2 linked regions of the Homo sapiens genome follow. The protein of the gene in region 1 interacts with the protein of each later gene in a pairwise test. Each region holds a gene or a part of one and is shown in the gene's direction. Other genes may lie near its edges.

Evidence for each region.
Region 2: the proteins of DAPK2 (region 1) and CCDC91 interact in binary tests that used the Homo sapiens proteins (3 or more experiments, as listed by UniProt).

What each region holds. Positions count from the first base shown.
Region 1 is NC_000015.10:63,983,611-63,987,525, reverse strand, and holds part of DAPK2 (death-associated protein kinase 2), read left to right. Parts: intron 1-3,771; coding exon 3,772-3,915. UniProt on the Homo sapiens protein: Calcium/calmodulin-dependent serine/threonine kinase involved in multiple cellular signaling pathways that trigger cell survival, apoptosis, and autophagy.
Region 2 is NC_000012.12:28,188,586-28,192,500, forward strand, and holds the start of CCDC91 (coiled-coil domain-containing protein 91), read left to right. Parts: upstream 1-1,870; 5' UTR 1,871-2,056; exon of another isoform or gene 2,057-2,153; intron 2,154-3,915. UniProt on the Homo sapiens protein: Involved in the regulation of membrane traffic through the trans-Golgi network (TGN). Functions in close cooperation with the GGAs in the sorting of hydrolases to lysosomes.

The sequences.
Region 1 (3,915 bases):
TGGGGGGCAGAGATACTGGAATATGTGTGCTTTGCATATGTATACCAGATTCCAGTATTCCCATCATTTTTGATTTAGTGTTAGCAATGACTTTCATTAGAGGTTGAATTGCTCCCTTCTGCTCCCTCCCTGGATGACATTCTGGGTGGCTCTGTCCTAAAGTAGACAGACCCTCGCCTCCCACCCATCATCCCTGTAGCCTAGCTGGCGACTTCTGCACTGTGGGACCTCAACTTCTGGCTGCAGAGCCTTCTGTGTGCAGAAAAAGGCCTGTTGCTGTCACCTGCCCTTGGGTTGGCTGGGCCCTCTGATGGGCATACTAGAGCCACCTCAGGTTCTGCTTTTGTGCATCTGCTGAGTACAGTGGCCAGGGAGTGCCTGACTGCAAATTTTCACTCCTGTTATCCTCCGAAAGCTAGAGTAATCTTCTGCCTTGATTTGCATATTCATAACACAGCAGTTAGACTGGTGAACCCCTCAAGCAAAAATCATGCTGATGGGAGAGACAACCCCTCCCCTCTGATTCCCTTTCTTTACTCCTTTCCTGAAATGATCAGATCAGAGAACTATGGGGAAGTGTAATACTGAAAATGAGGAACTAGTATGAGTAACAGTGGTATAGTTTCTTCATTTGTGAAATGGAGATAATCAGAAAGCTGTTGTAAGTCAGCCCTGGCTGCATGTCAGTTACCCAGCGGGCTTTTAAATAGCCCCATCTTCAGGCCCAGACCCAGGAGATCAGAATCTCTCAGGGTGAGACTTAAACACTAGGAGTTTTAAAATTCCCCAGGCAATATCAATGTGTGGCCTGGGTTGAGAACCACTGCTCTAGGATTTAAAGAGTTGGCTACTTGCTCGGAATAGAGCTATTTTCACATCTGGCTGTGCGTGGGAATCATTGGCGGGGTAGGGTGGTGCTTTTAAAATTAAACTGAAGCTGGGTGGTGTGGCAGGCACCTGTGGTCCCAGCTACTCGGGAGGCTGAGGTTGGGAGGATTGCTTGAGCCCAGGAGTTTGAGGCTGCAGTGAGTTATGATCACACCACTGCCCTCCAGCCGGGGCAGCAGAGCCAGACCCCATCTCTAAAAATAAATAAAATTAAACCAATTCCTTGGTTTCACATTCCAGACCATTTGAATCAGTGACTTATGTCTCTGGATGTCTCTTGCTCAGCCTTCACATGAACCACTTTTGAGTACCACGGGCCAACATTACAAATATTTCCAGTCTTCACAATTCTCTAGCAGGGAACCCTGATTCCCATTTGACAGATGAGCAAATCTATGTTCAGAGCAGGTGAAAGCATAAGTCTCTGAGGCCAGGCCTGTCTGATCTTGAAGCCTGGGGGCTGGGTCTGGTGGAGGGTGTTCTCTGCTCTTCTGGAAACAGCCCAAGGAGTGGGGGACACCAGCCAGCAGCCTTGGCTCCCTCTGAGGCTCCCCTCTACAGGTTGAGCAGAGGGCTGTGCCTGAGTGAAGACAGGTGAGACGAGTGGTGGTGTGTGGTATTTGGCGCCATCGTAGTCACCCACTCTCAAAATACCTCCTTTTGGGGAGGGAAAGATGCCTGTGCAGTGGGCCTGCCCCGGTCACCACTCATTGCCACAGCTGTCTCGCAAAGAGAAAACTCAGGCAGGAAAAGCAAACACTCATTTGCTTTTTGAGAGTTTGAGGAATTTTTCAGGCATGTGATATAGAAAAAAAATGCCACTGTTTCCCTCATAAGAGGAAGGGGAAACAACGTCAACATGGCCTGAAATGTTTAGCTCTAGTTTACAAAAGCCCTTCTGCCGTTTCACAAGTCCTAAGGCTGTCAACACAGTGCAGGGCTGGGAGCTGGGGGATTTGGATGCCAAGCCAAGCCCTGCGCCACTGCCTATGTGCTCTGTAAACCTAAGTGTATCCCTTACCACCCTTAAGCTTTGCTTTCCCCACAGGTCAAGTAGGAACTCAGGGCTTCTGTGACAAGGTCACAGGGACTCTGAAATGCCAGGCCCTGCCAGCGGCTGCTTGAGGTGTCGGAGAGGAGAGGCGTGTGGCTGCCTTGACACTGAGACTCAGAGCCACCCGGGCCTGGAAGCTCGGTCAAGTGTTTGTTGGCACCTACCAAGGCACCCGCTGTCCTCGAGGCCCAGAGTGGCTCCAAGAGACCATATGTGTTAGAGTTCACACTGAATGTGTTCACTCTGGCTCTGGGAGGCCTGGCTCCACTCCACCTGCGTCAGCCCTTAGTGTGTGCACAGCTCAGAGCCAATATTTGGAACTGAAATAGCTAAAAATTTAGAGTCAGTGGACGATGTAAGATAAATTTGGCTCCACAAAGCCTTCTCTGCCCAGTCCAGCCCCCAGGATCTTCTCTTTCCCTAGAGCTCCATCTGTACCTGTTGTCTGTGCCTTTGGTCCCTGCCCCGTAGTGCCTAGCACAGATCCTGGCACAGACTGGATGCCCAGACAGTGTTGATTGAATGGAGATTAAGGCAATGGAGAGATGCATGAGTTTGTGTTTGGGAACGTCTCTGAAGTGGCTGCCATAGAATGCTACCTAAGTGTTGGCCTATGTATCTGTTGCTTGCTGAACTTGACTTTGTTGTTGTTATTGCCACTCCGGGTATTTTGAAGACTGTCTCACTGAGGATGATGCTAATGATGGAGTGGTTCAGATGCAGTGCTATTTTGCTATTTTCTGCATTTGGGGCAAATATCCCAGGCATTTCCCTGTATGTAGCTTTTAACCCAGAGCCACTAAGAGTGTACCTCTTAAGTCTGGAGTCTGCTGGCCCCTTATTGAGCCATTAAGCTGAACCAGAAAACTTTCTGAGTTACTCAAGCAGTGGGTATTTTGGGTGGCAAGAAAACATGGGGCAATGATGGCAAATGGCAGTAAGGGGACGGGAGGACCCCCGGGCAAGATGGTCACTGGGAAGTCTCTGAGGACTTAGATCTGCTCCTGCTGGTCACTGAACTGAGGTGCAGAAGCAGGTGGTTGGTGCCCTTCCCTGTGGGGAGGGCCCCTGGAGCACTCAGGGAAGCTGGCTCAGGGCTGCCTGCCACTCTGCCATGGACTCCATTTCATGCTTGCTGTCTCTGTCCCTGGAGTAATGGGTTTCTGAGCCCAGCCCTGGGTACTAGTGCCTGAAGGGGAATAATAATGGTCTAGACTGCTCTAACTATCTCAGAGGCTTTGTGGACAGCCGGTTGGGTATCTGACTTTGAGGCTTGGCTTTGCCATTAACTCTGCGATGACCTCAGGCGAGTCACATGACCTATCCTTATGCCTCAGTTTCCTAATTGTACAACTCTCTGTTTATACCAAGTCCTCTGACTGTGATGCTCCCCCACTATGATGATTAACCTTGTTAGGCTGCCTCCTCTCCAAACTCTACCCAAACCTGGATCCCCACCAGCCCAGTCTGCTTATGGACATTGTGATTTCATCTGGTGGGTCCTAGACTTGGGTTCTAGCTGAGATTTTGCAATGACAAGGCTATGTCATCCTGATCAATAACCTTTCTGGGCCTCAGTGCTCACCTCTGTACACTGGGACTAAGAATACTAACATTCATTCCTCATAGAAGGAATGGACAGAAGGGAAGCCCAGTCCCTGCCCCATCTCATCCACAGGTTGTCATCAGGTGGGGATGCAGACTGGTGGCATGATTTGTCCTGTCCTGGCAGAATCACTCTGAATTTGTGTGACCTGGTAGCTGACAGTGGGGTCATTTCCCCAATGACCACAGTGATGACCTAATCTTGTGGGTCTGTGTCCCCACAGTGGCCAGTTTGCCATCGTGAAGAAGTGCCGGGAGAAGAGCACGGGGCTTGAGTATGCAGCCAAGTTCATCAAGAAGCGGCAGAGCCGGGCGAGCCGGCGCGGTGTGAGCCGGGAGGAGATCGAGCGGGAGGTGAGCATCCTGCG
Region 2 (3,915 bases), on another chromosome or scaffold:
GAGTTGGTAGGATTTGAATTCACTGATAAATAAGTGATATAAAAAGCAAAGTGATGTGCTATAGTGAATAAACAAGCCCTTCTGTTGGGCAGATCTGGCTTTAAATCCACTTGGTCAATTTACACTTCCTAAATCTGTAACCTCATCTAAAGTGTAAATATATTAATATACCTACTTTGTAAAATTATTGTGGTAAGTTATATATGGGATTTAAAATATTTAATCTAATGCCAGGCACATAGCAAATATTAATAATAAATATTAGTTACTTATTATAAATCTGTTTAGTATGGAATACAGTTTAGTATTGAATATCGGGACAGAGTGAACATGTAAGTACATCAATGGGAAGGAACTCCCAGAAACTAATCTGGTTTCCAGCAGAAAGAGATATGAGAGACAAAATAATATAAAGGTAACCTTACTAAGTTTAAGAAATATTTATGAATACCTTTTTTCTAACTACTAGACACTTTGCTAGACTGCTGGATACACAAAGACAAATGAGAAGTGAGTAGATTGCTGGATATACAAGTGAGAAGTGGTCCTTGACTTGGTAGTCTAGTAGACAGATAAAAAAATATGTGTAAGAAAGCATTACATTTCTTACAATAGAAATGTTTTTTGTATGCATAAAGAAGGGGGTGGGCTGGAAAAAGAATGTAGTCAAGGTGACTTGCTCAATACTGAAACTGCTCATTAACTACTTAGGCCAGCACTTATGGCAGACTTGTCAGGATGCCTTGCTAATATTTTCCACTTCCAGTACAGAACAGAGATTACAGGTTTAAGCCAATTTTGTTCAACAGATGAGAAACCCAGTGTCCAAGGATGAAAGAATACTTGTTATACAAGGAATGTGAATATTCCAGAGATTTATGCTCAAAGTCCCCAGGTTAGTGTCTTTCTTTCTCACTAGACTGTAAGCTTCTTGAAGACAAATATCTTGAGTGTTACCTTGCTCACTCTTGAATTGTCAAAACTTGGCCCAGGACTAGGTATGTGGTATACAATCAATAAAAATTTGTTGAATGAATGTTCTTCAAAATCCTTCCATGGCAAAAACAGAAGAAACATTCACGAGTGGACTGCTAGTTGACTGTTTCTCTCATCGCTATTGACAGTCTGAAATGGACAAAGACATCTATATAATCATTCCTTCCTTTCAAATAAATAATCTGTGAATTACGCTATTCTTTTCCTATTGCTTCAGGACAAGCTATTTGACAGAAAGCTTTTAAGAAAGGCTTTGCAAGAAAACTCTGCAACAGAGATGGCACGTATGAATTGCTGTGATCTGGAGTTGAAGACAAGAACAAAAGTAACTCTAGAGCAGAATTCTTTGACCAAAGTCATCTTACTGGTTGGCGGAGGCTCTCAGTCTACTTGCATCCGGTGCTTGAGAGTTCAGACAGGCAAAGATGAGAGGTAGCATCTAGTCAACATCCATTTCTTGAGCACTTACTACATGTCAGCCACTTTGCTTAGTCCCCGGTTTTACTGTGCTCTGCTAGGAAGTGGTGAAGAGATTCGGCGGGATCTTCTTAGGACCAATCCTACAAAGTTCCAGATGGAACTCATTTTGATTTGGGGGACGGTTTACTTGCAGGGATTAGGTGGAGAAACAGGGCCTGCTACTCAAGAGGAATGAGAAACTGTAACTAACAGGAGGTAGACTGGGAAGGAGCATGGCAAAGTCACCCCTTTTCACAGGGCAACGCTCCAAAGACCACGCTCAAGCTGGGGTGGCAGGGCTCTGAACATGGGGCCCCGACCCGGGCCTCGGCCTGGGGCCACGTGACGCGCGTGTTTACGTTGAGTGACGGGCGCTGTGTTGGGCGGGCCTTGGCGGAAATCAACTTCCGGGGGCAGAGGTGTTCGAAGCCGGGTGGTGCGTGGGCTACCCCAACCTGTGTGGCTGGGCCGCGGTCTCCCCTCAAGGGCCTGGGGCCGTGCCTCGGGTGTACGCGTAGGGGTCTGTGTGCTGGGGGTGGCTCACCGGGCAGCGTGGGTGAGCGGCGCAGCGGCGGCAGCGGAGAGCGAGAGAGGGGAGCAGGTAAGTGAACGCTCGCCTTCCGGGGCCTGGGTCTTGGGGTCGGGGCCGCGCGAGGCGAGCGGAGAGCGCCCCACCGGGGGAGGAGCGCGGACGAGCTTCCGCCGCCTGCAGCCCGCCTGCTGCGGCCTCGCCCTTGGCTGTCGCAGCGACCAGGAGTCAGGGGGCGTGACCAACCTCCTGCGGGAACGGAGCCAGCTCCCGGGGGTGGGAGTGCCCACTCGTTCCTGCGCTCGCCGGTGGGTACCGGTATCTGCACGTCCCAGAATCGAGTGTTTTCGAAAGTCTACGCCCACGAACACGTGATTATTGTGTCACCGAAGCGCCTACCGAACGGAGACCTTGATTCTTGCTTAGATTACACAGAACGCGCCTGGTTTATGTATCCCCTTTTACTTTGCCAAGTACATTGGGGTAAAAGCTCTACAGCGTCTGCCAGCCACATTTCCTTAGAGTTTCTTGGGCCACATGTTGCAATAAAAGTGGCATTTCAGGGTCAAGGCAGGAGCCAGTAACTTTGCCAAGTGGTGAGGTATCCTTCGTCCCCGTTAGCACGCCTCCCTTTCCCAACAATAAAGATATTTTCTCCATCTGCGCGTGTCGCCTACTGCGGAGGAAAGCTTTGGACATGAAACCTATTTTTGGCTTCACTTTAAGGAGTGGAACTCTATTAAAAGCTGCGCTGGTGTTTTTTTGGTAGGATGATGTTGCTGCTGCTACTCTCACTTGCTTCCTTGATGAGAGTTGGGGCAGAGCTCGATTTCCTGGAGGGTAAAGTCTTGGCCACAATTTTAGGTGACTCAGCGGCCCCTTATGAATTCTGACTCTTTCCTTCCCTCCCCTCTCAGCTGTGCGGATACTGATGCCACCTTTCTCTCCAAATATTAATCCGGGTGGGAGTTGGATGATGGTTTTTGGAAGCAGTTTGCATGTTGCGTGGTGGAGTTATTGGAGTGGGCTGACATTTTACTTCACAATTTAAGGCAACCCTTCCCCCCCCCACAATATTTAGTTGGGTGGGGTGACAGGGACTGACAACAAATTCGCTGTTGTGTTCCCTGCTGTCGGAGAGTTCTACACTTAATGATCACCTGATTGCCCTCTGCTACAATTTCTATTGCGTTGAGGGGATTGGTTATACTGTCTGTACCTATTAGGTAAATGTAGTAAGGGTCATGCCAGGCAGAGTGCACCTGCATGGTGTTGGCTAACCAGTAAACTGTGTGGTAGAGAATTGCCCTGGTTACGAAGTTTGGTATCCTCCAGGCTGCCTAGGAGGGTGTTCTGTGGGCTGGGAAATCTTATGAACTGGTTTCCTAGCAACAGTATAAGCCCAATGGAATAAACATAAAGAAAACAAAGTGATGAAAGTTACAACTTACCTCTTAACTTTTATTAAATGGAAAAATGTAGCTTCTTATTGGAGTGATCCACTCAAAACTTCTGAGACATTTTTGTTTATTTTGATCATCTTAGTACTTAATAACACACAAAAGAAACTGCAGAAAATCATTCCAGAGGGACATCACTTTGGTTTTGGGTGGCATTAAAATAGAGAAAAAAGACGTTTAAAAATGAGCTTGTCTGGAGCTTAAATGGACAAACAGGAATTTGGTGTAATAGGCATTTTATGTTGTACTCTTATCTATATGTGTCAGATGTATGCATTACATATGATTGTTATGAATGAAGATAGTAGAAGACGGAGTGGGAGTGGAGTAGAGTGGATGGGTGGATAAGACTGGTTCCATTAAGTAAAATGGAAGGGGAATGTTTTAGATAAGTTGTTCCCAAACTGTAGGTCATAATTACAGCACTCCTTTGTCAACCTGTTCCTTGTGATTTTTAATCTTCCTTGAAAG